Linked DNA regions of Homo sapiens: all the other regions are linked to region 4. Evidence: fine-mapped expression QTL. A gene starts in region 4. Each other region holds a variant in brackets. All regions are shown on one strand. Distances are between the middles of the regions.

Evidence for each region. PIP is the estimated chance that this variant, and not a neighbour inherited with it, causes the effect.
Region 1: its variant is fine-mapped to the expression of OSBPL8 in blood mononuclear cells (TOPMed, PIP 0.92).
Region 2: its variant is fine-mapped to the expression of OSBPL8 in whole blood (INTERVAL, PIP above 0.99).
Region 3: its variant is fine-mapped to the expression of OSBPL8 in blood mononuclear cells (TOPMed, PIP above 0.99).

What each region holds. Positions count from the first base shown.
Region 1 is chr12:76,292,668-76,300,778 of GRCh38, forward strand. It overlaps LNCOG (lncRNA osteogenesis associated), which reads left to right. Exons shown (of 4, transcript NR_146531.1): 3 at 1,146-1,338. Among named protein-coding and RNA genes, the nearest start is that of LNCOG, 37 kb to the left of the region's middle. The variant C/T (reference allele first, on the strand shown) is at 4,269.
Region 2 is chr12:76,585,577-76,593,687 of GRCh38, forward strand. The region is part of intron 3 of LOC105369850 (a long non-coding RNA gene); the gene reads left to right. Among named protein-coding and RNA genes, the nearest start is that of OSBPL8, 30 kb to the left of the region's middle. RefSeq lists a silencer at 3,579-3,779. The variant G/A (reference allele first, on the strand shown) is at 3,358.
Region 3 is chr12:76,370,850-76,378,960 of GRCh38, forward strand. OSBPL8 (oxysterol binding protein like 8) reads right to left here. Exons shown (of 24, transcript NM_020841.5): 16 at 7,603-7,701; 17 at 4,424-4,521; 18 at 2,495-2,584; 19 at 599-735. Among named protein-coding and RNA genes, the nearest start is that of BBS10, 26 kb to the left of the region's middle. The variant G/A (reference allele first, on the strand shown) is at 3,949.
Region 4 is chr12:76,555,892-76,564,002 of GRCh38, forward strand. OSBPL8 (oxysterol binding protein like 8) reads right to left here and starts at 3,880. Exons shown (of 24, transcript NM_020841.5): 1 at 3,506-3,880. LOC105369850 (a long non-coding RNA gene) reads left to right here and starts at 4,011. Exons shown (of 4, transcript NR_188081.1): 1 at 4,011-4,342; 2 at 6,404-6,467. RefSeq lists an enhancer at 2,801-3,110 and a silencer at 3,521-3,710.

The DNA.
Region 1 (8,111 bases), 260 kb before region 4:
AAACTTGCCTTCTTCACTGTGGGCACGCTTCCACCCTCCATTCCTCTTTCTTCTCCCTTATCCTGTGTTCTCAAGAACTTAAAACCTCTTCAACTCTTGCCTGACCTAAAATCTAAGTGTCTTATTTTCTTCTGCAACACCGCTTGGCCCCAATACAAACTTGACAATGGTTCTAAATGGCCAGAAAATGACCCTTTTGATTTCTCCATCCTACGAGACCTAGATAATTTTTGCCAAAAAATGGGCAAATGGTCTGAGGTGCCTGACATCCAGGCATTCTTTTACACATTGGTCCCTCCCTAGTCTCTGCTCCCAATGCAACTCGTCCCAAATCTTTCTTCTTTCTCTCCTGTCAGTTCCTTCAGTCTCCACCCCAAGCTCTGAGTCATGTGAATCCTCGTTTTCTACAGACCCATCTGACCTTTCCCCTCCTCCCCAGGCTGCTCCTTGCCAGGCCAATCCAGGTCCCAACTCTTCTTCAGCCTCCACTCCCCCACCCTATAACCCTTCTATTACCTTCCTTCATCACGCCTGGTCTGGCTTACAGCTTCATTCGGCGACTAGCCCTCCCCCCCTGCCCAACAATTTCCTCTTAGAGAGGTGGCTGGAGCTGAAGGCATAGCCAAAGTTAATGCTCCTTTTTCTTTATCCAACCTCTCCCAAATCAGTTAGCGTTTAGGCTCTTTTTCACCAAGTATGAAAACCCAGTGCATGGCCCGTTTGGCAAGAACCCTTAGACACTTTACTGCCCTAGACCCAGAGGGGCCAGAAGGCTGTCTTATTCTCAATATGCATTTTATTACCCAATCCCCTCCTGACAGTAGAAAAAGCTCCAAAAATTAGATTCTAGCCCTCAAAACCCACAACAGGACCTAATTAACCTCGCCTTCAAGGTGTACAATAATAGAGTAGAGGCAGCCAAGTAGCAACTATTTCTGAGTTGCAATTACTTGCCTCTACTGTGAGAGAAACTCTAGCCACATCTCCATCACACAAGAACTTCAAAACGTCTGAACTGCAGTGGCCAGGTGTTCCTCCAGGACCTCCTCCCCAAGGAGCTTGCTTCAAGTGCCAGAAATCTGGCCACTGGGCCAAGGAATGCCCGCAGCCTCGGATTCCTCCTAAGCCATGTCCCATCTGTGCAGGACCCCACTGGAAAATGGACTGTCCAACTCACCCGGCAGCCACTCCCAGAGCCCCTGGAACTCTGGCCCAAGGCTCTCTGACTGACTCCTTCCCAGATCTTCTCGGCTCAGCAGCTGAAGACTGACACTGCTTGATTGCCTGGGAAGCCTATAGGACCATCACAGACACTTTGGATAACTCTTACAGTGAAGGGTAAGTCCGTCCCCTTCATAATCAATACAGAGGCTACCAACTCCACATTACCCTCTTTTCAAGGGCGTGTTTCCCCTGCCTCCATAACTGTTGTGGGTATTGATGGCCAGGCTTCTAAGTTCTCTTAAAACTCCCCAACTCTGGTGCCAACTTGGACAACATTCTTTTATGCTCTCCTTTTTAGTTATCCCCACCTGCCCAGCTCCCTTATTAGGTTGAGACATTTTAACTAAATTGTCTGCTTTCCTGACTATTCCTGGGCTACAGCCACACCTCATTGCCGCCTTTCCCCCCAATTCAAAGCCTCCTTCACATCCTGTCCTTGCATCTCCCCACCTTAATCCACAAGTATAGGACACCTCTACTCCCTCCTTGGCGATGGATGATGCACCCCTTACCATCACATTAAAACCTTATCACCCTTACCCCGCTCAACGCCAATATCCCATCCCACAGCACGCTTTAAAAGGATTAAAGCCTGTTATCACTCGCCTGTTACCACATGGACTTTTAAAGCCTATAAACTCTCCTTACAATTCTCCCATTTTACCTGTTCAAAAACCAGACAAGTCTTACAGGTTAGTTCAGGATCTGTGCCTTATCAACCAAATTGTTTTGCCTATCCACCCTGTGGTGCCCAACCTGTACACTCTTTTGTCTTCAATACCTTCCTCCACAACTCGCTATTCCATTCTTGATGTTAAAGATGCTTTTTTTCACTATTCCCCTACACCCCTTGTCCTAGCCTCTCTTTGCTTTTACCTGGACTGACTCTGACATCCATCAGTCCCAGCAGCTTACCTGGGCTATGCTGCTGCAAGCCTTCAGGGACAGCCCTCGTTACTTCAGCCAAGCTCTTTCTCATGATTTACTTTCTTTCCACCCCTCCACTTCTCACCTTATTCAATATATTGATGACCTTCTACTTTGTAGCGCCTCCTTTGAATCTTCTCAACAAGACACCCTCCTGCTCCTTCAACATTTATTCTCCAAAGGATATCAGGTATCCTCCAAAGCTCAAATCACTTCTCCATCTGTTACCTACCTCAGCATAATTCTTCATAAAAACACACGTGCTCTCCCTGCCAATCATGTCTGACTGATCTCTCAAACCCCAATCCCTTCTACAAAATAACAACTCCTTTCCTTCCTAAGCATGGTTGGATACTTTCGCCTTTGGATACCTGGTTTTGCCTCCTAATGAAACCATTATATAAACTCACAAAAGGAAACCTAGTTGACCCCATAGATCCTAAATCCTTTCCCCACTCCTCTTTCCATTCCTTGAAGACAGCTTTAGAGACTGCTCCCACACTAGCTCTCCCTGCATCCCAAACCTTTTCATTACACACAGCCAAAGTGCAGGGCTGTGCAGTCGGAATTGTTACACAAGGACCAGGACCGTGCCCTGTAGCCTTTTTGTCCAAACAACTTGACTTTACCGTTTAGGCTGGCCATCATGTCTCTGTGCAGTGGCTGCCACCACCCTAATACTTTTAGAGGCCCTAAAAATCACAAACTATGCTCAACTCACTCTCTACAGTTCTCACAACTTCCAAAATCTATTTTCTTCCTCCCACCTGATGCATATACTTTCTGCTCCCCAGCTCCTTCAGCTGTACTCACTCTTTGTTGAGTCTCCCACAATTACCATTGTTCCTGGCCGGACTTCAATCCAGCCTCCCACATTATTCCTGATACCACACCTGACCCCCATGACTGTATCTCTGATCCACCTGACATTCACTCCATTTCCCATATTTCCTCCTTTTCTGTTCCTCATCCTGATCACACTTGGTTTATTGATGGCAGTTCCAGCAGGCCTAATAGCCACTCACCAACAAACGCAGGCTATGCTATAGTGTCTTCCACATCTATCATTGAGGCTACTGCTCTGCTCCCTCCACTACTTCTCAGTAAGCTGAACTCATTGCCTTAACTCAGGCCCTCACTCTTGCAAAGGGACTACACGTCAATATTTATACTTACTCTAAATATGTCTTCCATATCCTACACCACCATGCTGTTATATGGGCTGAAAGAGGTTTCCTCACTACTCAAGGGTCCTCCATCATTAATGCCTCCTTAATAAAAACTCTTCTCAAGGCTGCTTTACTTCCAAAGGAAGCTGGATTCATTCACTGCAAAGGCCATCAAAAGGCATCAGATCCCATTGCTCAAGGTAACACTTATGCTGATAAGGTAGCTAAAGAAGCAGCTAGCATTCCAACTTCTGTCCCTCACGGCCAGTTTTTCTCCCTCTCATCAGTCACTCCCACCTACTCCCCCACTGAAACTTCCACCTATCAATCTCTTCCCACACAAGGCAAATGGTTCTTGGACTAAGAAAAATATCTCCTTCCAGCCTCACAGGCCCATTCTATTCTATCATCATTTCATAATCTCTTCCATGTAGGTTACAAGTTGCTAGCCCGCCTCTTAGAACCTCTCATTTCCTTTCCATCTTGGAAATCTGTCCTTAAGGAAATCACTTCTCAGTGTTCCATCTGCTATTCTACTACTCCTCAGGGATTGTTCAGGCCCCCTCCCTTCCCTACACATCAAGCTCAGGGATTTGCCCCGGCCCAGGACTGGCAAATTGAATTTTCTCACATGCCTCAAGTCAGGAAACTAAAATAACCTCTTGGTCTGGGTAGACACTTTCACTGGATGGGTAGAGGCCTTTCCTACAGGGTCTGAAAAGGCCACCGCGGTCATAATTTCTTGGTTTGGCCTTCCCACCTCAATACAGTCCGATAACGGACCGGCCTTTACTAGTCATATCACCCAAGCAGTTTCTCAGGCTCTTGGTATTCAGTGAAACCTTCATACCACTTACCGTCCTCAATCTTCACGAAAGGTAGAACAGGCTAATGGTCTTTTAAAAACACACCTCACCAAGCTCAGCCTCCAACTTAACAAAAAGGACT[C/T]TGTCAAGAATAGAGCCCAAAAACTCACCAACCAAACAAGTAATTACGCTGAACCCCCTTGGACACTCTCTAATTGGATGTCCTGGGTCCTCCCAATTCTTAGTCCTTTAATACCTGTTTTTCCCCTTCTCTTATTCAGACCTTGCGTCTTCTGTTCAGTTTCTCAATTCATACAAAACTGCATCCAGGCCATCACGAATCTTTGTATATGACAAATGCTCTTTTTAACAACCCCACAATATCGCCCCTTACCACAAAATCTTCCTTCAGCTTAATCTCTCCTACTGTAGGTTCCCACGCCGCACCTAATCCCACTCGAAGCAGCCCTAAGAAACATCACCCATTATCTCTCCATACCACCCCCAAAAAATTTTCACCGCCCCAACATTTCAACACTATTTTGTTTTATTTTTCTTATTAATATAAGAAGACGGGAATGTCAGGCCTCTGAGCCCAAGCCTGCACATATACATCCAGATGGCCTGAAGCAAGTGAAGAATCACAAAAGAAGTGAAAATGGCTGGTTCCTGCCTTAACTGATGACATTCCACCATTGTGATTTGTTCCTGCCCCACCTTAACTGAGTGATTAACCTTGTGAAATTCCTTTCCTGGCTCAGAAGCTCCCCCACTGAGCACCTTGTGACCCCCGCCCCTGCCCATAAGAGAGCAAACCCCTTTGACTGTAATTGTCCACTACCCACCCAAATCCTGTAAAACAGCCCCACCCCTATCTCCCTTCCCTGACTCTCTTTTTGGACTCAGCCCACCTGCAACCAGGTGAAATAAACAGCCTTGTTGCTCACACAAAGCCTGTTTGGTCGTCTCTTCACGCGGACGTGCGTGACAATGGGCTCAAGTCGTCCTCCCACCTCAGCCTCCTGAATAGCTAGGGACTACAGGCATGCACCACCATGCCTGGCTAATTTTTGTATTTTTTGTAGAGAAAGAGTTTCACCATGTTTCCCAGGCTGGTCTTGAACTCTTGAGCTCAAGCGATCTGTCTGCCTTGGTCTCCCAAAGTGCTGGGATTACAGGGATGAGCCACCATGCCCGGCCTTGAATAGCCACTTTGGATCCCCATTTGAAACTCCCTTCTGTTGGAATTCCAAAAACTTTTCTGCACAGTCCTCTACCCAAATGCCCTTGTGTAATATACACCTCTGTGTTACAGTCTTGTTGCAGACAAAGTGCAAATACTAGGGTTCAGGTGAGGCCATTCCAAATTATTTTCAAGGAATGAGGTTTGCTTCTAAAGATGCCTGTTTGAGATGTTTCAGAGCCCACCTTCCTGAAGATGTATATTGGTATCTGATACAATGAACTTTGATGTATACTCATTGATCCAGTACTTAAAGATGGACTATTATTGAATGTTCTTGACAAGAGAAATGACATTATAGAAGTCTAGAGTTCACCTAGTATGCCAACATGACTATAGCAGTTGTTAGAATTTTGACATACAGCTGACCCTTGAACAAGGCAGGGGTTAGGGGTGCTGAGCCTCATGTAGTCAAAAATATGCATGTAACTTTTGATTATCCCAAATCTTAATAGCCTGCTGTTAACCAAAAGTCTCACTGATAACACAGTAATATGTGGTAATAATAATTTTTTTTTTTTTGAGATGGAGTCTCGCTCTGTCACCCAGGCTGGTGTGCAGTGGTGCAATCTGCGCTCACTGCAACCTCCACCTCCCAGATAAAAGTGACTCTCGTCCTTCAGCCTCCCAAGTAGCTGGGATTATAGGCACTCGCCACCACGTCTAGCTAATCTTTGTATTTTTAGTAGAGATGGGGTTTCACCATGTTGGCCAGGCTGGTTTTGAACCCCTGACCTCCGGTGATCCGCCTGCCTTGGCCTTTCAAAATGTTGGGATTACAGGTGTGAGCCAACATGCCAGGCCTGTGTTAATAATAATTAAGACATTTTATATGTTATATAGATCATATACTGTATTATTACAATAAAGTAAACTAGAGAAAATAAAGTATTATTAAGAAAATTATGGGCCAGACACAGTGGCTCACATACCAGTTGTTGCCATACCAGTTGTTGGTTTTTTTGAATGTCATTCCTGTAGACGTGTGCTTTGGGAAAATTTTGCTGGCAACAGTGTCTAAGGGGTTAGAGAAGGGAAGACCCCAGAGCCAAATAATTCAGCAACAAGTCTGTTGTCTTAATCAGGAGGTCAGGTGGTAAGCGCTTGGTCTAATGTGACAGAGGAGAGAACTAATCTGAGCTGCCTGTCATCTTAAGAGGAACAAAGCCTCCTCCAGCGTGTTTAGGACTCAACCTCTGGAAAGTATGGACAGGTAGAAACCTAGTCCCACTCCCAGGGTAACAAGGCCAGAACAGGACCACCAGCAACATCAGCTTATTACTAAGTTAGAAAATTTATAAATTCAGAAAATTTGTAAATTGTCTAGTTCAGTTCAGTCTGGGATGAATTTGAGCCAACAAGTGAGCCCTTACAGGGCAAAAGGGATACGAGATCACAGAATGAAGAGGGTGCAAGGAAAGGGACCAGCAGGGGAAAGTGTGGGGGATCAAACCAGAAAAGGACAGTCATCAGGCAAATTATGATAGAATGTCATCAAGAAGAATGAAGACTGGAAATAATTATACATTTTTTGATTGGGGGTGACTAGAAGTGTCACTGTAGGGATTAAGATGGGAATGGATGAAGAAGAAAATGCATAGTATGCACTGTGGACTACTGACTCCAAATGACCAGGACTGGGAAACATTAACCCATGAGCTGGCTCAAAAACAGCAGAAACCTATGCTGTGGTTTGGTGGCCGTGGTTCTGTGCAAATGAAAACTCAAGAGAACCCACACTGGGCTGTGACCAGACCTTCTGTTTTATACCTATGTTCTTGATGGTCATCTTTTATAATTATTGACAGCTGGAGGGCAGGGAGAGCATTCTTGCTTTTGTGTCAGAAAACATTCAACATGGAATAGGAGCAGCACTTCATCTGGACGTTAAACCTCTGGTTAAGGATTCCATGCAATAACTGGGCTCAACTCTGAATATATCCTGGATATATTAAATATATGTTAAAATATATTAAAAATATATATTTAATATATATCAGGATCTCAGCCTCCTCCTGAGTGAGGCATCGGAAATGTCTGATCCAGTAAGCAGGCATTGTGTCACACCAGCTGTCACACCGGGACTTCCCCAGCAGGGACAGAATTCCTAAGGGATTATCTCAGAATCACAGAAGTTTCAATTATGTAGGACCTGAAGTTACTCTCCCTCGTTCCTGGAAAATTTTAGGTCCAGGTTTACTAGTTCTATCTCTACAGCTCTAGTCATGATTCTTGGGGGGTTTAGTGTCCATGAAGATGATTCTTCTAGTTCCCTGGCCTTTAAAATTTCCTCAACTTCTTCACCTTTAATGATTTTGTCCTCCACTTCTTAGCCACCCGCTTACTCCCTTAGTCATATACACGTCTAGACTTCATGAATGGCAAGAATTGTATCTACTCCATAGTCTTTAAAATTTTTTTAAGAGACAACAGGGTCTCGTTCTGTCATCCAGGCTGGAGTGCTGTGGTACAGTCATAGCTCATTGCAGCCTTGAACTCCTGGGCGAAAGCAATATTCCTGCCTTAGCCTCCCGAGTAGCTAGGACTACAGGCATGAGCCACTGTGTCCAGCTAATTTTTTATTTTTTATACAGATTTCATTATGTTGCTCACGTTTACTCCATAGTCTTACACTCAAACATCTAAATCTTAAACTGTCTCATATTTTTGAGTCACTTCCTCTAGTACCCCAATTTTAATAATTCTTCAACCCAATGAGGATCTCTAAACTACTGATCCTAT
Region 2 (8,111 bases), 30 kb after region 4:
GAAAAAAATTTCATATCGACCTTTTACTGCCACATCCTGAAGGTGACACACGTAAAATCTACAGTTTTCACTGGCCAGACCAAGTCACATGGCTCCATTCAGTTGTAGGGTCGCTGAGGAATACAGTCAATCCACTGAGTGGCCAGAAAGGAAAGAGAAGTAAATATTGATTAACAAAGCAATATGTAGCATAAATAGCTATTATGACTGTTGTTTTTATATAGGTGAAGAAATGTAGGCTTAGAAAAATTAAGTTATTCATCCAAAGGTACATATAAGGTAAGTAGGGGAGCCTCAGCATATGGACCTATCTGACTCCAGAGCCTGTGCCTAACTTCTATCTTCCATTACCTCCCAGCACCGCACTGGAAGCCTGGCAGAACCTAGCCACCACTAGGGATATTTAATTCAATTCATATACATTCAGTTCAATTCAAATCAGCATATATTTGCTAAATGCTTTCTCTTTGCCAGGCATTGCAGCTGCATCTGGAGGAGGGTTGAGCTATTTCACCATATAGATCTCCTACGACTTTGAGACTGTGATGTAAAGAAATAGGCAACTGTGATGGTTATTTTATTTGACAACTTGGCTGGGCTGTGGTACCCAGATATTTGGTTAAACGTTATTCTGGATGTTTTGGTGAAGGTGTTTTTGGATGAGATTAACATTTTAACCAGTGGATTTTAAGTAAAGCAGATTACTTTCCATAATATGGACGGGCCTCATCAATCGGTTGAAGGCCTTCATAAATCAAAGACTGACCTCCCCAGAGAAGGAAGGAATTCTGCCAGCAGGTTGCCTTTGGACTCAAGCAGAAACTGAGTCCCCACAATCATGTGTGCCAATTCCTTAAAATAAACATCTATATCTATAATATCTATATGTATACACATTCTGTTGGTTTGGTTTCTCTGGACAACCCTAACTAATATAACAAGCTTAAAAATTAGTTCTATAAAACAGGGCTAAGAAATGATTCTTTATTATACTTTAAGAACAAGATCCTCTGCAATCCCTATTTACTTTTATCTTTGAATGTTAAGTAAAAATAGCAGAATTCTAAAATAACCTACAGAAATAAGTCAAGATTCATTATATTTTCTATAATACAAGAAGTTTTACAAAGCTATTCATCATAAAATACATAAATTTTTGCAAGGAACCTTGTGGACTGAAAAAACAGCCAAAACAAATCTGCCACATACAGGCCCCAGAATGTGGTTTTATAATCTGTCCACTTAGGAAACTGTTCCAATTATCTTCACAAATTCAGTATTGTGAGAATGTGTCTAGGTGTTAATTATCATTTTAGAAGGAAGTCAGCTCTCCTACACAGCTAAGAATGCTAACAGTCTCCAATTTTAACTTGTTCTCTTATACAAGATGCTGTTTTGGGAAGTATTTAGTTGCCCCCTGCTGGCCATACAATTGCAGGATTCATTTTTTAAAAAGTTCTCAGTAGATTGCAGATGATAATGATAAACTTCTGAAGAGATGCATTCAACTTTTTCATCAGATGAATTCACAATAGACTTCCAATGCTCAATTGAGATACGTAAGTTAATAAAAAAAATTTTTTTCCCCACCACCTGGTATAGGGTGAAATGTTCCAGCAGGAAGACTTTAAGCTAGATCAGTGGGAGAACAGGATGAGATGTAGGAGGAGTGACTGAGGGGCTTCACAGGCTCCCTTTCTTCTTTAACTTTTGTTTTAGGTTGAGGAGTACATGTGCACGTTTGTTATATAGGTAAACTCATGTCATGGGGGTTTGTTTTACAGATTATTTCGTTACCCTGGTACTAAGCCTAGTACCCAGAAGTTATTTTTTCTGCTCCTCTCTCTTCTCTCACCCTCCACCCTCAAGTAGGCCCCAGTGTCTGTTTTTCCCCTGTTTGTGTCCATGAGTTCTCATCATTTAGCTCTCACTTATAAGTGAGAACATGCAGTATTTGGTTTTCTGTTCCTGTGTTAGTTTGGTAAGGCTAATGGCCTCCAGCTCAATCCATGTTCCCACAAAAGACATGATCTCATTCTTTTTTATGGCTGCATAGTATTCCATGGTGTCTATGTACCACATTTTCTTTATTCAGTCTACCATTGATGGGCATTTAGACTGATTCCATGTCTTTGCTATTGTGAATAGTGCTGCCCAAAATTCCTAAACACAATTTTCTTTCTATAATACTCATGTCATATTTTATGTCTCTTCATATCCTTTTTAAAACCATATGGAAATAATTTACCAAATTGAGAGGAAAAAAACACTTGTTCAAGAAGCTTAAAAACTATATTTTTATCCTGTCTCTGCTACTAACTCTCAGGCTAATCTTGAGCAAGACTCTTTAACTTTTGGCAGTGATAAATATGTTTACAAATTTTGATTTTCATTCCCGAAAGTTTCTTCATGCTATTTTGTAATTTCTTCTTCCTGCCACTCTTGGGACTTTCCCATCCTCAAGTTACCACTGATCCACTCTCTGTCACTGCAGATTAATTTGCATTTTCTTGATAAGAAAATTATTTTATTTTATTTATTTATTTTTGTTTTGAAACAGAGTTTCGCTCTTTTTGTCCAGGCTGGAGTGCAATGGCGTGATCTCAGCTCACTGCAACCTCTGCCTCCCAGATTCAAGTGACTCTCCTGCCTCAGCCTCCCAAGTAGCTGGGATTACAGGCACGTGCCAACATGCCTGGCTAATTTTGTATTTTTAGTAGAGATGGGGTTTCATCATGTTGGCCAGGCTGGTCTCAAACTCCTGACCTCAGGTGATCTGCTAGCCTCGGCCTCCCAAAGTGCTGCGATTACAGGCATGAGCCACCATGCCTGGCCGAAGAAAATAATTTTTAAGCTTACTAGCTAAGACACTTTATAAAATGAGATATGGAAAAAATGTAAATGCTTTATAAATATTTTTAAAAATTGAGTTTCCCTATCTTGAAACCTGAGGTGCAGTGTGATGCAGTGGTTAAAAGCTTAACCTTGGGGCCAGGCACGGTGGCTCACACCTGTAATCCCAGCACTTTGGGAGACTGAGGCAGATGGATCACCTGAGTTCAGGAGTTCGAGACCAGCCTGGCCAACATGGTGAGACCCCATCTCTACTAAAAATTTAAAAATTAGCCAGGCATGGGGGTGCATGCCTGCAATCTCAACTACTTGGGAGGCTGAGGCAGAATAATTGCTTGAACCTGGGAGACAGAGGTTGCAGTAAGCTTAGATAGCACCACTGGAAAAAAAAAAAAAAAGCAAAAAGCTTAAACTTTTAAGCCAGCAAATGCGGGCCTAGGTCTTGGGTCTTGGCTCTGTTATTTACTAGCTGTATGATGTTGGGCAAGTTACTCAACACCCTGA[G/A]GTTAACAGTTTCCCCATGCTTAGAGAAACAGATAATAATAGCATCTATCCTCATAAAGATGTTGTGCAATTGCATACAAAACACTTAGCTCAGTGCTGGGCCTGTACATAAAAAACCTCAGGGTTGACTACCAATGGTAGTCATCTATCTTTAGACATTTCAAAGAGCATCACCTTAATTCTAAGAAAAGGAAATGAGAAATGAGAACCCTGGCCATGCAGCCAGTGCAATCCTAAGGCAATCATTTTAGAAATGTTTTGTGAGGATTATCATAGTTCACTGTGTCAGACATGGTATCCAGCTGACTCTGACTCAAGCCCTTTTCTTAAGCACCCCATTGGTTTTCTTTCCTCATAACTCTTTCTCCAAGTGTCATGGTATCCCTTTCTTTGTAATTCCATTCCTCCCCCTCAAACATATGACCTGACAGTCATCTCATTTCACCTTTGTGATTTGACATATAACTTGGCCAGAGCAGAGTGATAGTCATCACTTGAGATGGCAGGCATGGTGGAAATAGAGATAATTGAAGAAACAAGGCTTATTTGTGAAAAATGTTCTTTAATAGTTTTATCCCTTGTATTCAAGTACTTCTGTTGCTCTTTTTTGAGCTCTGCCAGGTTTACACTTATTAAATTTCTCTCCCTACAATGGAAACTACTTGAACCCCACTTGCCAGCCTAGCCCAATTTAGTATCTTGGGCCAATTCTAATTTTATGAAAGAGAGAGTTAAGATGCTGTATCTTGAGATTTGCATAGAGAAAGCACCTTTAGCATGCTTTCTTCCATGAACTTTTAGCACTGCCTCATTATAGTGTAGAGAAATATATGGGTAGGGGGTAATTAATTTCTGAGGAGGAGAACCTCCTGCCTACCATCCCTCCTAACTTGTAGCATACCATTTATACAAGTTTATTCTCTTCTGCTATCTTAGCCTGGCTTCTTCCCTGAAATCGGAGTCTGAGACAATAACTTCTGTGCGGATAGTTGATTTTGGGAAGAGATCCCAGTGAATAGGAGTGAGGGGCTAGGAAAATTAAGACATGAAAGGAAGGAAAGCTAACTCAAGAATACATTAATCAATCTGAACATTGTTGTAGGTAACTCAGGCTCATTTCTCTGGATCTTTGAATAGCTACCTAGAATTGTCTGCCTTCCCCCAATGTGGCAGACATATCCTAAGGTAACCCCCAATGATCTCTGCCTTCTGGTATTAATGACCTTCTTTATGCCCCTCACCGTAAGACTGGGTAGAACTTGTGAACTGCTTCCAGCCAGAAGAATAAGGCAAAGGTGATAGGATGTTACTCCCATGATGTAATGTAATACATGCATTACAATATATGACAAATGTGATGGGATATCACTCCCATGATTATGTTATATTATGTAAGAATCTGTCTTGATAGCCGACTCACTCTCTCACTTTCCTGCTGGTCTTGAAGAAACAAGTTGTCATGTTATGAACTGCCTATCGGAGAGGACCATGTGGCAAAGAACTCAGAGGTGGCTTGTAGAAGCTGAGAGCCAACAGAAACAAAACAAAACAAAATCTTGAAGCTCTCAGTCCTGTGACTGTAAGGAAATGAATTCTCCCAACAACTTGAGAGAGTTTGGAAGAAGATTCTTCTTTCTTCAGGCTTTCAGATGGGAACATGGTCCAACCAACACCTTCACTGTAGCCTGGAGAGACCCCAAAGTAGAAAACCCAACTAAGGTGTATCTGGACTCCTGACCTACAGAAAGAGAGATAGTAAATGTGTGTTATTTTAATGTGTTCAACTTGTGTTAATTTGTTACATCGAATTGGAAAACTAATAGAGATTTTGGTGCCTAGAGGTAGAATGCTACTGTAATAAATATGTAAAAATATGTCTGTGGCTTTGAAACTGATCAGTGGACAGAGACTAGAAGAATGCTTGAAAAGTATGATAGACAAATCCCAAATCACTGCGAACAAACTCTCAGTAGAAATGTGGATATTGAAGACTGCTGTTGAGGACTCAGAAGGAAGTAAGGAACATGCTATAGGAAACTGGAAGAAGGGAGATCCTTGTTATGTACTGGCGTAAAGCTTAGTGAAATTATTTCTTGCAATTACGTTGAAAGCAGAACTTGTAAATGGATGAATTTGGTTATATAGTTAAGGAGATTTCCAAGCAAAGTGTTGAAGGGGACAACTGGTTTCTTCTTGCTACTTACAGGAAAATTCAAGAAAAGAGACAAATTGAGAGAAGAACTATTAAGCAAAAAGGAATCAGGACTTGATAATTTAAAAAATCCTCATCTTCCCCAGATGGCAAAAAATATTAACAGTTGGAGATGGCTTTTGGGCACTGTCAGAAAAGCCTACTCTAGAGAAAATGCACTTGAAGTTACTCTATAATCTTTTTTAAAGCCCCCAAAAGATCAAAGGTCAGAGTACTCAGGGGTATTTCAAGATACGGCCCTTAGATTTGAAAAGATCTAAGGGTATGCCTCAGATCCTCTCAATCACACTATTGAGCCTCTAGGAAGCTTAAAGGAGATGGAATTATTTTTGAAACAATCTGTAGATGTGGCCTTTGTCTGATAAGAGTGAATGCCACTGAAATACAGAAAGAACCACAACATTCTTGAGAAAATTATTTCTGCAGAAACAGTGCCAACTTGGAATAAGACAGACAGAAAGACTAGAAAATGAAAAGAGGCTGTCAGACCTCCAAAATTTTACTGGCAGAAAGCAGGCTGATAAAACTACTCATCTGCAAACACATGCTACCTTCCATGAAAAAGGAAGAATGACTCAGATGGTGGAACCAAGAACCCAGAAAGCAGAGCCAAGAGCCATGAAGAATCATTCCCAAGCCTAGAAACTTAATTAAGGAACTTCCAATAAATCCAGTTGTATTTCAAAACTGCTATAGACTAGTGACTCCTTTTTACTACCCATTTCCCCTATTTTTAAACTGGAATGTCTATAGCTATTATCCTGTGTCTGTCCCACCATTGTATGTTGGGTGTGTTGGAGGCAGATAACTCATTTCCTTGGTTTCAGAGGTCCATAGTTAGAGAATAATTGTGTCCAGGAGCTTTACTTAACAGGTTATACGTAGGAGGCTCATCTGCACCTGGACTTGATTCACATGATGAAATTTTAGAATTTGAGCTGATGCTATAATGAATGAAACTCTTGGGAACTGATATGGTTTGTCTCTGTGTCCCCACCCAAATCTCATCTTGAATTGTACTCCCACAATTCCCATGGGTTGTGGGAGGGGCCCTGGTGGGAGATAATTTGAATTATGGGGGAGGTTCCCCCATACTGTTCTCATGGTAGCAAATAAGTCTCACGATATCTGATGGTTTTATCAGGGGTTTTATCAGGGGTTTCCACTTCTGCATCTTCTTCATTTTCTCTTGCCGCCGCCATGTAAGAAGTACCTTTCACCTCTCAGCATGATTCTGAGGCCTCCCCAGCCATGTAAGTCCAATTAAACCTCTTTTTCTTCCCAGTCTCAGGTATGTCTTTATCAGCAGTGTGAAAACGGACTAATACAGGAACCTTGGAAGGGGAGAAACCATATATTTCATATGGGAGGGCCTGAGGAAAGACTGGCAGACAGAACCTAGGCTGATTCTCCAATGACCCCCACTTTCTGATATCAATGCCCCTGTTAATTACATCCCATGAATATGGGAGGAATCTGTGAAGCATCTAACTTATAGAATATGGCAAAGGTGACAGAATGGCATTCCTATGATAACATTATGTTATGTAAGACTTCATATTGCTAGTAGACTCTTCTGCTGGCCATGAAGAAGCAAACTGCTATGTTGCTGCCTATGGAGTAGACCACATGGCAGGCAACTTGAATGGACTCTAGGAGCTAATGGCATCCTCCAGCTGACAGCCAACCAGCACACTGAAGCTTTCAGTCCTATATCCTCAATGAAATAAATTCGTTCGGCAAACCATATGAGCTTGGGAGCAGATGAGCTTCCCAATGAGAACACAGCCCACCTGATGCATTGACTCTAGCCTGGAGAGACCTGGAAGCAGAAAATCCAAATAAGCTGTGTCTGTACTCTTGACCACAGAAACTGGGATATAATACATGTTATTGTTTTAGGCTGCTAGATTTGGTAACTTGTTATCCAGCAATAGATTACAAGTGCAGTCAAAGATTGTCCCAGAGAGTGTTAACTTCTTTACTCTTCCAGGTTGTACATGCCTAAGCGCAGAGTGGGTTCTCATTGGCATCCATGCCATATCATCAGAGCAGCACAGGTTTTGAAATGATAAATATGTGGTACAGTTGCACAAAACTGGTTGCCATAGCAATAGTTGGTATAAAAGGTAGGCTGAAAGGATGTGAAAAAGATTATTCTAGTTTGTCTCATCCTGGCTACCATTTCAGGGAGTCTGTGTTGCTTGACTGGGTGGGGGCAACCAGATCATCATCTCTGAAGGGTCTGAACTCTAATTCTTGCTCTTCAGTGAGTCTTAATTATTACAATTACCCATTTATACTTATCACCAGACATGGAGCACGAAGAAATAACTCAGTGAATCCTATGTGTTCCATGCATCGGACTTCCTGTCTCCATTGGGTAGCAGCAACTCTATTTCATATGGGTAATCAAGGTCAGTTATCACCACCAAGATAGTAAGTGTTTTCATTGATGGTCCACTGACACAAGTGATCTAAAATGATCATGTGATAGTTATAGTTTCCAGTTCAATGGAGACTTCATGTGTGCCCTCATAGA
Region 3 (8,111 bases), 190 kb before region 4:
CTCTTATACATAAGTCTCTTTCTCTTAACACAAAGATATAACAACAATAAAATAGGGAATGTGTATACAATATTTCTGATTCAAAAATATAAGCCATCTAGCAAGAAGTTCATGACTTAAGAACAGAAATGATAGCCTTAGTTATTACCCAACTAATAAATCCTATAGAAGCCAGTCCATCCAGTAACTTTACTTTTGTATCAGAGAATGGAACAGAAGTAGATTCTGCACCACTCCCTTTACCTAGAGTTCTAATGCTTAAATCAGGTTAGAAAACTGTTGCCAGGTAGAAACTAAGAGTCATTAATTAGTCCTGTAATCTTATTTAAACAAAAACGTTCTTTCTTTCTTTTTTTTTAAGGTGCTGGAACAATTGAGAAAGAAAAAAATGAGTAGTTTTGAGCTACAGAAAAGCAAGACGATTTATATTATATTTGACATTCATATACACAAAAACAGAATACTGTCACTTCCACAAATGATAAACTATTTTGCTGAATTAAGATATGACAGAAGGTGACAAAATGACCATATCATTAAGGAATTGAAAAACTACTCTCTGATCCTCATGAAGTTAGCTGTAAAACAGTATACTTACTTCTCTGATTCAAAATCTCCCTGTTCTTCAAATTTTACAGTGTGCCTTATTAATCTCCATTGCTTAATGTCAGGTGTTGGATTCCAGAAAACCTCTGAATTATCAGTCTTTTTATCAGTAATAAAAACTTCACTATCCTATATTTAAAAAAATTCAAAATTAATGTAAAGAATTATACTTAGAAGGCAATTATATAGTATAGTAATATGACGGTGATAATTTCTTCTGGTTAATCCTCCAGTTAAAAGCATTTTTAAAACAAATATAACTAGCACTTTTCCAAAAACTCCAAGTTTCTTATCATTTTTATAAAAACATTAAGATTGACTACGTAATACTAGTTAATTAAAAAGAATTTGGTTGAATATCCAGTTTGTGAAATTTCATAAGTTTTACTTAATAAATTTCAAACATTACATGCAAAGCCTCAATAACCATCTCCAAACTGTCCAAGTAGAGCATAGTATTTGTTGCAGCTACAATGAGATGCTGTTGACTATCCATGGATTCAATATACTCAAACATACACACACACACATCCCTCTGAAAGAGCCTTTACTAGCATTAAAAATTTGAGGTCTATCTCTATCGAATAATCTTTCTATCTAAGACATGGACGGTCTTGCTCTCTTGTGTAGGCTGGAGTGCAGCGGTGCTATCTACCTTATCTATCTAATCTATTTTACCTATCTAATTTATCTACCTGTTTAACCATCCTTCTCCTTCTCTCTCTCTCTGTCATCTCTCACTCTCATCTCTATCTTATCTATCTGTCTGAGACAGGGTCTTGCTTTCTCACCCAGGCTGGAGGGCAGTAGCACAATCATGGCTCACTGCAGCTTCCACCTCCCAGGCTCAAGCAATCTTCCTGCCTTAGCTTCCTGAGTAGCTGGGACAGGCATGTGCCATCATGCCCATCTAATTTTTTTATTTTTATGTTTAGTAGAGAAGAGGTCTTGTTATGTCACCCAGGCTGATCTCAAACTCCTGAGCTTCCCAAAGTGCTGGAATTATAGGTGTGAGCCACCCCACCCAGACAGAAATTTCATTTTTTAAAAATGACTGCTGCTTTATCTTTTTTCCAGAAGACTCTCAGATTTAAGGCAATTAAAAAAAATTTTCAGAGTGTATGTGGCCACTTAACAAAGTCCCTAACTTCACTTTCTCATATTTCTCAACATTTTCTGCTTACTGCATGCAGAAAGGAGCATATACTCAGTGCTCATAGTATGGTATATCCATGCAGTACCATGATTCTTTTTATTCATTTAAGCGTCTCTTAACAAAATTACATAAATATGAATTTAGGTTAGCAGAGAAGTAAATAAAAGCCATTGCTCTCACACACCACTATATCCTTTCCATGTTCCACTGAAAGGAATATAACTCTAATTGGAACTATGCCTCTTTCTTCTATGTGAGTAGAGTGCTGTGCATAAAAGCACAGTCCTGGGGCCAGGGTTCCTGGGCTTTAATTCTTGTTCCACTACCTACTTTGAGCAAATTATGTGAACTCTCTGTGCCTCAGTGTCCTCTTCTGTAAAATGGGGACAATAATAAACAATAATAAAATGGGCATGGCACCTATATACTCACCTCATAGCGTTATATGTTATAAATATTAAATCAGTTAATATGAGTAACATTCTTAAATAATGCAGTAAGTCATATATAAGTGTTAGCTATTTCTACTGATTTTAAGTTTTGGAAATAAAATATTACACAAAATTAACTACTGTTGATAACAGAACACCACCAAAATATCTGCTATTAAGATGAAGCTTATGTTAAATAGTGATGTTTTCAGCAACGGAATAAGTTTTAAATTTTAAATGTGATTTTTTTTTTCCCACAGAATAAAATTCTTTTTGTAAAGCTCATATACAAAATACTTACCCAATGACCTTCCAAAGTAGCTAGGACTTCTTTTCCCAGTTTAAGTTTCCCTGATATTTGATTAACACAGTCACTACTCCCTAGGAATGGCTTTTAAACGAGAAAATGTTAAACATTTTACTTTTCACTTATATTTACATATAATGTAAAACCAAAACAAAAAACCCAACAAAAATTGCTTGTATAGTTACAGTACTATTGAATGCACAAGCAGTAAAAAAATACTGACTCAAATTTTAGTTAGAAATGTTTAATAAGAAATCTGAATTGCTGCTATGAAAAAAATAGGATAAAACAAGCAGACTATATTAAATCAAAATAAACATATTAAGAAAGATCACCCTGATATAACTGACTCATGTTCCATGTATGCTCAAATCCTGTGTCCTCCCCTGTCAAGACTGTGCCCTATCAATGTGACGTTATCTTAAGCAATAACAACTCAATAAACCTAATGGAATTAACGATCCATTGAAATAAATAACACCCCTTCCTTAAAAAACAAACAAACAAAAGTAAAATATATAGCCAAAAAAAGCCTCCAAAAAATAAAATTAGAAGGAATACACTGAGTTACTATAATGCCTTACTAACATCTCTCCTTAGAGACAAAATTTTGATGCTCCAATGTCATACTTAAAGGCATCATATATACTTAAGAACTCATTCATCATGATCTTCAAACATTATCATCACCATACAAGGAAAATTTTGCCAAGGTGAAAGAAAAATAAAATAAAAGACATTGCATCAAATAATACTTAAGAGGTCTTTTTTATCAGAGCAAAATTGCTTATCAGCTGGATATCAACATAGCAGCAATTTAGTAATAAATATTACTAGTTTACAGAAATATTTTTATCTGAATATACTATTGTTCAAGAACAATTAATTCACATTAAGTTCTCAAATTTCCCTTTCATTTTGAGGCAGACAAAAATTTCCAAAGATGGCCTTGACAATACGTACCCTCTCCCCTTCAGCCCACATACTCTTCCTCAAGGAGACCTTGCCACTCTCCCAATGAGAAGTGGGGTCTATATTTCTTCTCCTTGAATTTGGGTGGTCTTACAATTCTCCAAATAATAGAAGATGGTGGAAGTGATATAATTTGGCTTCTCAGGCTAGGTCATGGAAAGGAAATGCAGTTTCTGTCTTGCTCACTGGGGCACTTGCACTTTGAAACCCTCAACTGCCAAGTAAGAAGTCTACTTTGAGGCTGTCATGCTGTCAGGAAATCAAGTCACATGGAAAGGCCATGTATACAGGTGCTCAGATTAGCAGTTCTAGTCCTTCGGTCACCCTAGACCAGGTATCAGATATGTAAGTGATAAGCCTTCAGGTGATTACAGTCCCTAACTATTGAGTCACCCATGGCCTACAAAGTCTTTCTGAGACCCCAGACATTATGAAGCAGAGATAAGCTATCCCCAGTATACCCTGTCCAAATTTTT[G/A]ACTCACAGAACTCATGAGGAACAGCACATAGTTATTAAGTCTGTGAGTTTTAGAGTAACTTATTACACAGAAATAGTGACTAATACAACTGTGCCTTGGTTTACACAGCTAGACTGCAAGATGACACATATCTTCTGGTATTTGGTAAAAACAATCCTTTAATTTACTAAGAAATTTCTATCCAATCACTTCTTAAATCTCATCTTCTATATAATACCCACAGTTTTATTAATTAAGATGAAAAACAAAAAATGTCTTTTGTGTTAATTTGAATTTTCCAAGGCTGCTATCTTAGGCTACCCGAAGATACTCACCCAGCCTTGCCCTTATTCCTTAGATGCACTTATCCTTGACATGACATAAATTGTGTTCTTACATTTAGTCCTTAATTAGGAAATACATGGTGCCCTTTATTCAATATTTATTGTATGGCTCTCCTTTAGCTAGGTGATACCTACTGTATTGTCTACTAACCTTTAGTTTAAATTCAAGTATTGCACTGTATCCAGTTTTTTGACATGTAATATTGACTGTTCCACCAAGCTCCAGTGTCATTGTACCATAAAGAATTCCTAAAGGAAAAAGATTTGACAAAAAATTGAAAAGAGTATAGTATAGTATATGGCTCACGATAAACAGTTTAGTAATCTAATCTTTTAGGAGAAACATAATTCAAAATCACTCTGTCCCACTCAAATGAAAAACTATAATATAGACATACAGTTGGTTCTGTAGGATATAAATAGATAACACCTGATTCACATTATGTGCAGATTCCCTATCTGTAAATTCACCTACTCAGTAAAATATCAATACCCACAGTACTTCTGTAGTCATTTGGAGACATGTGCAGAGTAGCGAAAAATTTGAGTCACCCAATGCACACATTCTGAGCTGAGGCTGAGCAAGGCAAACACTCTTGGTTCAGCTCCCACATTGTTTTAAAAAAAAAAAAAAAGTGTCCTTTTTGCAGTGTATTTAGTATCATGTTTTCACATTTTGTGCTTTTCACTGGTGGTTTTGCTGTTTAAAATGGACCCACATGTAGTGTTGCAGTGCTGTCTAGTGTTCCTAAGTGCAAGAAAGCTATACTGTATTTTACAGGGAAAATGTGTGTTAAAAGCTACGTTTAGGCTTTAGTTCTGTTGGCTGTTAGTTCAATGTTAATGAATCAATAATATGTAATTAATGTTATAATTACATCAGGTTTCTTTAAATAGAAGCATATATAAAACAAGGTTATGTACTGATTAACTGGCTGATGAAAATGTTGGCACAAGAGGCTCACAGGAATCCAATCTCATACTCCCCCAGGAGCAATGGCTCAGTATTTGCTAACTCAGTGGTGACTTTATGTAACATAACTACTGCAAATAACAAGAATCAAATGCATAAGCAAAGCAAACAAAAAACTACAAAATAAGTTCTGTGGTTAAAAGCTGGGGAAACTCTGGGTTTAACAAAGCTAAACAGGTTGTGTGTGTATCTGCTGTTGGTCTAAGATGCTAAGGCAGCCTTTAACATGCAATGTACAATATTATCTTTTGAGAGGGGAACAGACTATGCAATGTTTCTCAAATTTATTTGGCTATGGAACTCTTATTTTACAAAACAATTTGTGAGACTAGTGACTTGGGGGAACACACCTTAGAAAACATACAGGGTGAAACATCTTATAAAAATCATTTCATATGCTCATTCGCAAGTGGTTATAACTTCTTTTCTTTTTCCATGCATTGCTATAAAAAATTTTCCCTATTGTAAGCTAAGTAGCGCATGGATATCTACATGGAATATAGTTTTATTTTTTCTAAATGATAGAAAATTTAAAAATATGTGTTCTTATCAATTCATAATTAAAGATATTTCACTCCATGCTTACTTCAAGAACTATACTTGAAGCTCTAAGAATAATCTAGACTAAGGCCATAAGTTAGGCTCTTTTGTACATGCTGGGTTGGCCTTCGATAAGATTCAGCCCTCCGAGATTTCTCAACTGTGTGTTCTGGGATACATGTGCAGAACGTGAAGCTTTGTTATATAGGTATACACGTGCCATGGTGGTTTGCTGCACCTATCAACCCATCATCTACATTAGGTATTTCTCCTAATGCTATCCCTCCCCTTGCCCCCCACCTCCCAATAGGTCTCAGTGTATGATGTTCCCCTCCCTGTGCCCATGTGTTCTCATTGTTCAACTCCCACTTATGAGTGAGATCATGTGGTGTTTGGTTTTCTGTTTCTGTGTTAGTTTGCTGAGAATGATGGTTTCCAGCTTCATCCATGTCCCTGCAAAGGACATAAACTCATCCTTTTTTATGGCTGCATAGTGTTCCATGGTGTGTATGTGCCACATTTTCTTTATCCAGTTTATCACTGATGGGCATTTGGGTTGGTCCCAAGTCTTTGCTATTGTGAATAGTGCTGCAATAAACATACGTGTACATGTGTCTTTATAGCAGAATAATGTATAACCCTTTGGGTATATACCCAGTAATGTGATTGCTGGGTCAAATGGTATTTCTAGTTCTAGATCCTTGAGGGATAGCCACACCGTCTTCCACAATAGCTGAACTAATTTACACTCCCACCAACAGTGTAAAATTGTTCCTATTTCTGCACATCCTCTCCAGCATCTGTTATTTCCTGACTTTTTAATGATCACCATTCTAACTGGCATGAGATGCTATCTCATTGTGGTTTGATTTGCATTTCTCTAATGATCAGTGATAATGAGCTTTTTTTCATGTTGGTCACATAAATGTCTTCTTTTGAAAAGTGTCTGTTCGTATCCTTTGCCCACTTTTCATATTGAATAATTTATATGTTTTCATGAATCAGTTCCCAAAATAGAGGATAATTACCAAAAAAGGTATTTTTAAGATTTTAAGAAACCGGTTGGAAGGGAGGATACACATCATGACCACACTAAACTGATGCAAAATAGTTGAAAGTTCAGAGTGCAGAGGTAAACCACCTGGGTTCAGATCCTGACTTGCCACATTTTAGCTGTATGATCTCAGGCATATTAACCTCTCTGTGCTTCATTTTTCCTCTTCTAAAAAAGGGAATAATAATATTTCTATTTTATAGGAGCTGCTGAAATGATTAAATAAATGCATTGAACAGTTGGGTGCCTAGCATGTTGTAATGTTATAGATGACAATTATTATGTAATACCCTTATCTGTATTTTAAATAATGGGGCAAAAAGCATAATACATTAAGAAATTGCCAAATGAGGGTGAGAAAAATCTTTAAAAAACTTGGTACATTAAAAAATAGTAAATTAAAATTTTAAAAAAGCATGGTGGTGCAAAAAGATGAAAATCATCTTTACAGATTCTGAAATAATAGACGGTTTTGTCAAATTTGAAAATTTGCACATCAGGCAAGTGCAAAGAAATTCCATTATGATAAATCAGTCTCTTCTGACTAAAGTACACATCACAAAGAGTCCATTACAGGTGAATTAATTCACCGCAGAAATATTCAGCAAATGATAGCAATAATCTTAAATATCTGTAATCCAAGGATGCTTTCAAACAAAATGTAAGTCTGACTCCATCAATCACAAAGCATAACAAATCACAGCTACATACATTTACTTAAAAGGAAAGCTTAATATCTAATTCAAGTATAGAAAATATTTACCTTTACAATGAGCGTATGGCATTGTCATTACATAATCTTCACCTCTATTCAAGAAAGTTAACCGTGCTTCTCCCTCTAATATTGCAGATAATGAGTTTCCTGAAATAAAATGTTGTTTATTAAATTTCACAAAACTTATTCAACCAATTCAAAACAAACAAAATATATTTAGAACACCTACCAGACATCTACAGTAGAAAGTCTTAAAAATGTCTCAATCTCAATGTGCCCAAACATGTATTCATTACCTTATATCCAAAACATATTTCATCCATATTCTCATTTTTACATAATGACTACTTTTAAAAGATACAGTTATGTGCTTTTTTTTTTGAGATGGAGTCTCTGTCACTCTGTTGCCCAGGCTGGAGTGCAGTGGAGTGATCTCGACTCACTGTAATCTCCACCTCCAGGGTTCAGCAATTCTCCTGTCTCAGCCTCCTGAGTGGCTGGGATTACAGGCGTGCACCACCATACCCAGCTAATTTTTATATTTGTAGTAGAGACAG
Region 4 (8,111 bases):
CTTACTGTGCTTTATCTGACATAATTTATTCAGTCTGACTTAAATGCTTTGCTGCACGTTGTCTACCCCCTTAGACACTGCTTATCTTCAGACACACAGCCCACACCAAAACCTAACTCAAGAATCACCTCCTCCAAGAAAGTTTCCCAGATTAAATGACCTGTTCCCCTTCTCCCAAGCTAACATCCTTCCTTTATCATTTCGCTGCTTGCATTTAGTTTGGACTACATTATCAGATACTCCTTTTGTTCTCCAGTCATATATCTGGAAGTAGACTTTTTTCATTCATTAACTATTGAACATTTGGAGATTCAATGGTGAGCAAAACAGACAAGGTCCTTGCTATCATGGAGAATTTACATTATCTGGATCTTCGACAAAGGTAAAAATAACAGGGTATAAGAATATGATGCTCTAGGACTAGGATTTCTTCCCTATAAGGTCTCCGAAAATAGCTCTCTCCCTTGCAAGCTTGATAACACTTTTCAGGAAGAAAAATTCCTTCTATCACGCCTTCCACATGAGAATTTTATGACTTTGTGAGGATATGTGAGGGATGGGGACCAAGGTGGGAAGAAAGATCTAAAATCTCTCAGGGGTTTCCCACATACTGCCATGAAATATGCACACAACATGAGTCTAGACATCTCTTCCTGTGTCTCATCACAAGGAAGCTATACTTTGGCCACAACTGCTCCAGTCAAGCACTTCTACTAATCTCCTTGTACCCAGCCACCTTCACTAAAAATTGTATATTTCTCAGAGGCTTTTTGTTTTTTTGGTGTTTTTTGAGACTGAGTCTTGCTCTATCGCCCAGGCTGGAGTGCAATGGCATGATCTTGGCTCGTTGCAATCTCTGTCTCCTGGGTTCATGCGATTCTCCTGCCTCAGCCTCCCAAGTAGCTGGGATTACAGGCACACACTGCCACGCCCAGCTAATTTTTTTGTATTTTTAGTAGAGACGGGGTTTCACCATGTTGGCCAGGCGGGTCTTGAACTTCTGACCTCATGATCTGCCCACCTCAGCCTCCCAAAGTGCTAGCATTACAGGCGTGAGCCACCGGGCCTGGCCTCTCAAAGGCTTTTTTATTCAAGTTGTGTTTCTGTCTTATTTGCAGGTCATTATTTGTAAGATTAAGGCAGGACCTATGTCCTCTTTGAATTGCCTGATGCTCCAAGAACATTGCTATAAATGTTTTTAACTTTCAATATAATACAAACATTACAACATGACATTTCAGGCATTGTTATTAGGATAATATTAGGATAAAAGTTTTCCAAATTAATATTAGAAAACTAGATCTATGTACTGTATCAATTCTTTGTCTTTAATGCCTTAATTCAAGTAATCTACTTTTGAAGGATTATTTACAAACCAAAGCCAAGTTGAAATGTACTAACACTGGTTAAAATTCTGCAATTCATACTTTTAAACAAAAGATCCGCCAGACACAGTGGCTCATGACTGTAATCCCAGCACTTTGGGAGGCTGAGGCGGGCGGATCTTGAGGCCAGGAGTTGGAGACCAGCCTGGCCAACATGGTGAAACCCCATCTCTAATAAAAATACAAAAATTAGCCTGGCATGGTGGCACGCACCTGTAATCCCAGCTACTCAGGAGGCTGAAGCATAAGAATCTCTTGAACCCAGGTGGCAGAAGCTGCAGTGAGCCAAGTTGCACCACTGCACTCCAGCCTGGGATACAGAGTGAGACAGTCTTAAAAAAAAAAAAAAAAAAAATCCTTTTGTAATGCATATTTTACAAATTCATAATTTCATCATTTTTCTTAAAGCAAACTAAAACATAAATTCATTATACACAATTGTAAATTTATCCCCAAAGTGTTTTCTAAGGCTTCCAATTTTTAAATGAACCAAGGAACTGAATATTGACAAATGTATAAGTACCCTGAATGTGTTATAAAAAACATATTTGACTGTCTTTAAAATGCAGTAACATTCTAAGGAAAATACAGTAGCATCTTTCCACAGATCAGAGATTCAATAACTATTATGATTCAATCAAAGAGAAATAAACCATGGCCATTTTTAATTAAACAGGCATTTCTAAGCACCTGTGTACACGGTATTGCTGTTCAAACGGTTGACATGGAATGTGACCGCAATAACTTGATGTCCATAATTAAAGACCCAAAAGGTAGCTTAAGTTTCATCTATTTCCTTTCTCAGCCCTTTGAGCAGGTATATTATAGTCACTCCATACACGGTTAATATTAAAAAAAAATAAAAGTAACAAACATTTGAAATTAGTTGTACTTTTATAGAGAACAGTTTTAAATTGCATGGCCTTACTTTTCCTATTCCAACCTATTTTATAAAACTAGCATGATCTTAATAATTTCACTGCAAAACAGGTTCTAGCAAGCATAGAAACTGATCATAGCCTCTCAGCAAAATCAAGTTTAGATGAAACTCTAGGAAATTAGCAAAATTTAACAATCAATTCACCCACGATTCTCCACAATTCTTGCTCTCTCTAGATACGAAGGGAGGCAAAAACTGTTTTAAAGGATTATTTCAAAAGCAGCACTAATTTTGGGAAAAACTTAACTGCCATGCAGGAGACACTGTATTACTACTCAGACGTCATTTAAGTCTTCTAGCAGCAGAAAGGCAAAAACATCATTAAATTTTTTATTTAATGCATATATACTTACATTATCAGTTAAAGTTTACCCATCTGTTTACGTTGTCCAAGTTACCTATTATTTCAGAAAGCATTTAAATAAAATGAAATTAGGTTACGTTCTGCAACGCAGATGTGTCTCATAAAGAAGAGTGTTAAATGACTTTTGTGAATGGAAAATCTGCATATACTGTTGCTTCGCCTCAGCCAGTCTTGAGTGGGTGGTTCAATGAACCTAAAGCATGCTGCCTGTGAAGCTCCTTGGAACCTGATTCCACTCTTGAGAGAGGGCTTAGAAACAAACATTAAATTTAAAAGCACAGCAAAGGCTTGGCTTTCCTCCTACGTTACAAGAAGGCCGGGAGAACTGAGGCTTAGAGGAACAACACCGTGTCGCTTGGCTCTGCAAAGGCGGGTGCGGTCTGCGGTGCGCGGCACAGCCTTCTCTGGGGCTGTCACAGGAAAGAAGGAGCCTCGCCTTAACCGCACCGAGCGACAAAGCGCCAGCTCTCCTGGGCGCGGGGGCTCCCAACGAGGCCCATGCCATCAACCTATCAAACTTCAGGAGGGACAGACACCCGGGGCGGTCGAAATGCTCCAACAGCCTCCCACCCCCGTTCCCCTGCCGCGGCTTTTGTAAGGCTGCAGATGCACCTACTGTGGGCCCCTAAACACTCCACCCTGCCAGCCTTTCCAATCCCCCTACTCCAAAAGGGAACAAAGGAGCCAAAGAACTCCTCGGCGGGGGTGGCCAGGAGTCCCCGACAGCCCGAGCTCAGAACGTGGCAATAAGGGTGCGCAGTCGCCCTGAGGGGTGCGAACCCAGCACCCCAACCTCAGGAATGGAGCAACACTCACCCGTGCGGAGCTCCCAGGGAGGCGGGACGCAAGGAGCCGGTTCCTCCGAGGTCGCCGCGGCGCCGGGGTCCGAGGCCCCGTAAGCGTCTAGTCAGACCCCAACTTCTCTCGGCCGCTGTCGTCGGCGGCAGCTGGGGCGCGAGCCTGGACGAAGGGCGCTGCCCAGCGGCCGCGGAGGCACTGCCGGCTCAGCCCCCGAGCGGGGCGGGAACTTTCGGCCCCGAGGTCCACCAGCCCGGGCGGACCCCCACCTTCCCTCAGTCGGCTTGCTACCGGCAGCGGCTACTGCGGCGTCCAAAGCTAACACTACAGCCGCCGCCTGGCCAGGAGCGCGTCGCGGCCTAATGTTGTCATCCGCCGCGTCGCCGCCTTTCTGGGCACCCAGAACCGCGAAGATCCTTCACATTCTAGTGCCCTCCCCCTGCCCCGCCCGCCCCCCGGATCACGGGCTTCGGCCACGCCCTCTTCCCGTCACGTGACGGTGCGCGGAGGCGGTGGTGGAGTTGCTTCCCCTGCTAGGCGGGCTCGAACCGGGCGGGAGTCACTGTCCACCTTGCTTCGCCAGGGTGTTATCGCCAGCCAGTCCCCTTCCGCATGCCCAAGGGCAGCCTCAGGAAGCGAGCCCACCACCGTCGGCCCAGCGCCTGTTGATCGGCCAGGCCTTCTGGGCCGGTCATACTGGGCCCTTCCTAACCTGAGGAGATTGCACAGTAGGGCTCCCTGGTCTGGTCAGGGCTCAGTTAGGACCCCTCTCCAGCCTTAGGCTTGGTGAAAGCTTTAGCGAAACAGAAAAAAGAACGCATCGTGGTGTAGAGTGTATGGCCTAAGAAGCATTCGGTAACTAAACTACTTGTTCCTATTTCTAGTGGCACATTAACCGTGGCATTTAATTTACTGCTTTCCTCATTAGAGGTTTTTTTTTTTTTGAGGAAACGGTGTATTTCAATCATGCTGGGATGAAAACAGCCTAGCAAACTTATTTTTGTTCCTTGTTATGTTCAGGATCCTGCTGCCAGTTTTACAGTCATTAAGTTTTACAGTGTGTTAGGTTGGTGACAGTTTAAACGGGTACGCAGGAATTTGACAGTTTGTTCCATTTTTTAAAATAAAGCCTAATTCTTGATTTTTTTTCTAATGCCTTAATTTTTTTTTCCTAATTCCTTAACTCTAGGACTTAACCTTTTGCTTTCTTTTTTAGCCATGATCCGAAGAACCCTCTAGCCGCCTAATGAAATCCTAACTATACAGAAGTAAGGGAGGTAGAATAAAGATCATACTCAAACCCTGATCACAATGAAGGCAAATGAGAAAGCTTTCTGTAATAATTAAATTGGGGTCATAACTCATTTTCCCTTGTAGCCCAGAACTAAGGATTTTTTTCTTAAGCTATTCTCATCTCATTACATTTTCTTAACAAGAAATCAGAAGGCATTCTGATAAGCTGGATACATTGAAATGAATAAGCAATAGAGTTTGGCCTATATAATTATTATTAATATATTTCATAGCAGCTCTAAAAAAATCATAGACTTACATTGTTTTATGTTACCCAAGAAAGAAAACAAAGGCTGCCAATGAAACTATGCCATACCGCTGATATGTAAGGCACCTTTAAGCCACATCTTTTTCCTTTTTTTTTTGAGACAGGGTCTCACTCTGTCTCCCAGACTGGAGTGCAGAGGCGCAATCTCGGCCCACTGCAATTTCCGCCTCCCGGTTCAAGCGATTCTCCTCCCTTAGCCTCCCAAGGAGCTGAGATTACAGGCATGCGCCACCATGCCCAGCTAATTTTTGTATTTTTAGTAGAGAGGAGGTTTCACCATTTTGGCAAGGCTGGTGTTGAACTCGTGACCTCAAATGATTCACCCGCCTCGACCTCCCAAAATGCTGGGATTACAGGCATGAGCCACCGCGCCCGGCCTGAGACACATCTTGAATTCAGAGATGTAAACATGTCAGAAACAACGAGTCTTAGAATCTCTGAGATATTGTCATGAACTGGGAAACAACGAGTCTTAGAATCTCTGAGATATTGTCATGAACTGGGAAACAACGAGTCTTAGAATCTCTGAGATATTGTCATGAACTGGTGTTCCAAAGAGGAAAAGATTCTACCAGGTTCTGTTCTGAAGCCTGAGAGACTGTAGTACAAATAAATGTGAAGGAAGTTTATTATTCTGTGACATTATTTCAGCAAAGCTAGTAACTTTGGAGTTTGTTAACAGATTAACTTGTCTCCTGTTTTCTAGAGGCATGTTTTTCAACCTGCAACTCAAAAATCAATTTCATTTTTATATGAAATAGGCTAGGATGTAATACAATATAAAATACCAGAGTGCATAATGTCTAGTAAGGGCAAAAATTGCTTCCTGAAACTTTTTGTTTCAAATATGGTGGAAGGTGAGAGTATGTCCTATGTTGTGATTTAAACAATTTCTTACTGTGAGTTGCAATCAAATAGATTTGGAAAAGAATGTTCCTAGAGCATAGATAATATGCAAAATACACCATCTGGACCCCGTTTTTCTGGTACTTTTATTTTACTTTGGAAACTGAGACTAAAGATTAGAAAAAGGTGGCAAATTGCCTTGCCTAATTCTCTTCTGCCTCAGCCCCAATTTCATACATTGGCTTTTGAAAATTTGATCATTTGTTGGAAAAAGCAATGTACTGGAAGCAAGGAAGCCTAGGTTACAGACTTAGCTAATGAGATGTATGACTAGATAAATTACTCCCTGCATTTCAAGTTCCAATCAAGTAGGACCACATGCTGTTTGAGAAATGATACTAAACCACCTTTTTTTTTTCCCGGTGGATGGCAATCACATTGGAAACAAACAGACACGGTATACTCAGGATTATGCAAATTACTGACAGCCTACGTTTAACTTCTTTCAGCTCCACTCAAAAAAAAGAAAGTCCTAATGCAAGTAATTGAAAGTGAAGATATTGCAAAACAAATGTAAGTATATCTTTCACAATCTTCTCTACTTTGATTATCACTAGTATAATAGTTACTTGTCATGAATAACTAATGATTTTGACATACTTAACAACTGATTGCAACACAAAAATATATTAATCCACTACAGTTGAAAAATCATTTTTTCAGATCCTTTCAAATCTGATATTGTGATTCCAGGAATGATAATTCAATCTAGCATTTTCAATGTAATGACAACATAAACAGAAACTAATATGTGATCCTGCACTGTAACTGAAAAATATTCAGTAACTCCCAGAGATGCCCTGCAAGTTTGCTACTCTTACAATGATTTTAAGAATGACATTTTGAAATAAAGCTTTTTTATTATAACGATCCGATTTTAACTCCAATGAGAATTCATCTCTTTTGCCTACTGCTTTATTAATTATACATTTCTAAGAATGGGAAGTTCTTTCCAAATTAGTTTAAGCACTGACAGGCTTGACAGCCTTTCCCACAGTATATTTCAACCCTGACCTAGAATGACAGAGATGTTGCTTGAGGTTGTTTGCTTTTTTCCATTTGGCTTATCCCATTAGACAATTATGTTGCTGACAATTACTAATCAGGATTCTAGACTAAAATCCTCATTTTCTGGAAGAGAATTTAGATTAAGAGCAACCTCAGCCATAAATAAGGTATTCAACACAGCTTTGAAGACTTGTATTCTTGTTGGTCATGTGATTTGCTTTAGCCAGTGCTTTGTGAGCAGATGTTAAATGCTAAATCAAAGCAGAGGCTTTAAATTTGATTGCAAAATTCAGGTCAATCTCTTACTCTTGTGCCACCTGCCATGAGAAAGGTATGTTCCAGATAAGATCTCAGAATAAGAAAATAGATGGAGCAGACCTGAAACTCTCACCCTGTACAGAACTGAAGCAACTGACTTGCAGCTCCTGACATACGGCTACTGATGTGAAACAAGAGTAAAACAAAAATATTTGTTGTTGTGAATCACAAATATTTTTGAGATTGTTTGTTGCGTAGCATAATCTTGCAAATCATCTAAAGTGAATTTGAGCCAACAAACTCATGAGTCAAAGGCTAAATGTACTGTGGAACAATAATATTTGTCTATTTAATAAAATAAATAACAGACATCTACAAACTAGTCAACCAGCTATTTGGTAAATATCCACCTAAAATTTATGTTAAGAAGCAGTCTTTATAAAATCTGTAAATTTGCATGCAAAATGTTTGCATGTAAGATATTTACATACTGATTTTAAATATTTCTGTTTAGTATTATTTGTCTTAAATATCCCTTGAGGAAAATTTGGATAGTAAAGTATAAAGAGAATATAGGATTCTGTTTCTAGAAATATCAAGGACTAGTTCACACTTGTCACACTGAAAACAAAATCCCTGGAAAAAACATTTTTTAAATCTTATTAAATATATTGATTAACTGACAATAGGGTAAGAAATTATTAAGTTAAAAAACTAAATGAAGGCAGGAACCTAGAGTTTAGCAGAGTCAGCCAACTTTTATCTCAAGGGCATGTGCTAAACCCAGTTACTAGGAGCATTGGTTTTCGTGACCTTGTAAGAAAGACACAAAACCCATTACCTGCATTATACACACACACACACACACACACACACACACACACACACAAA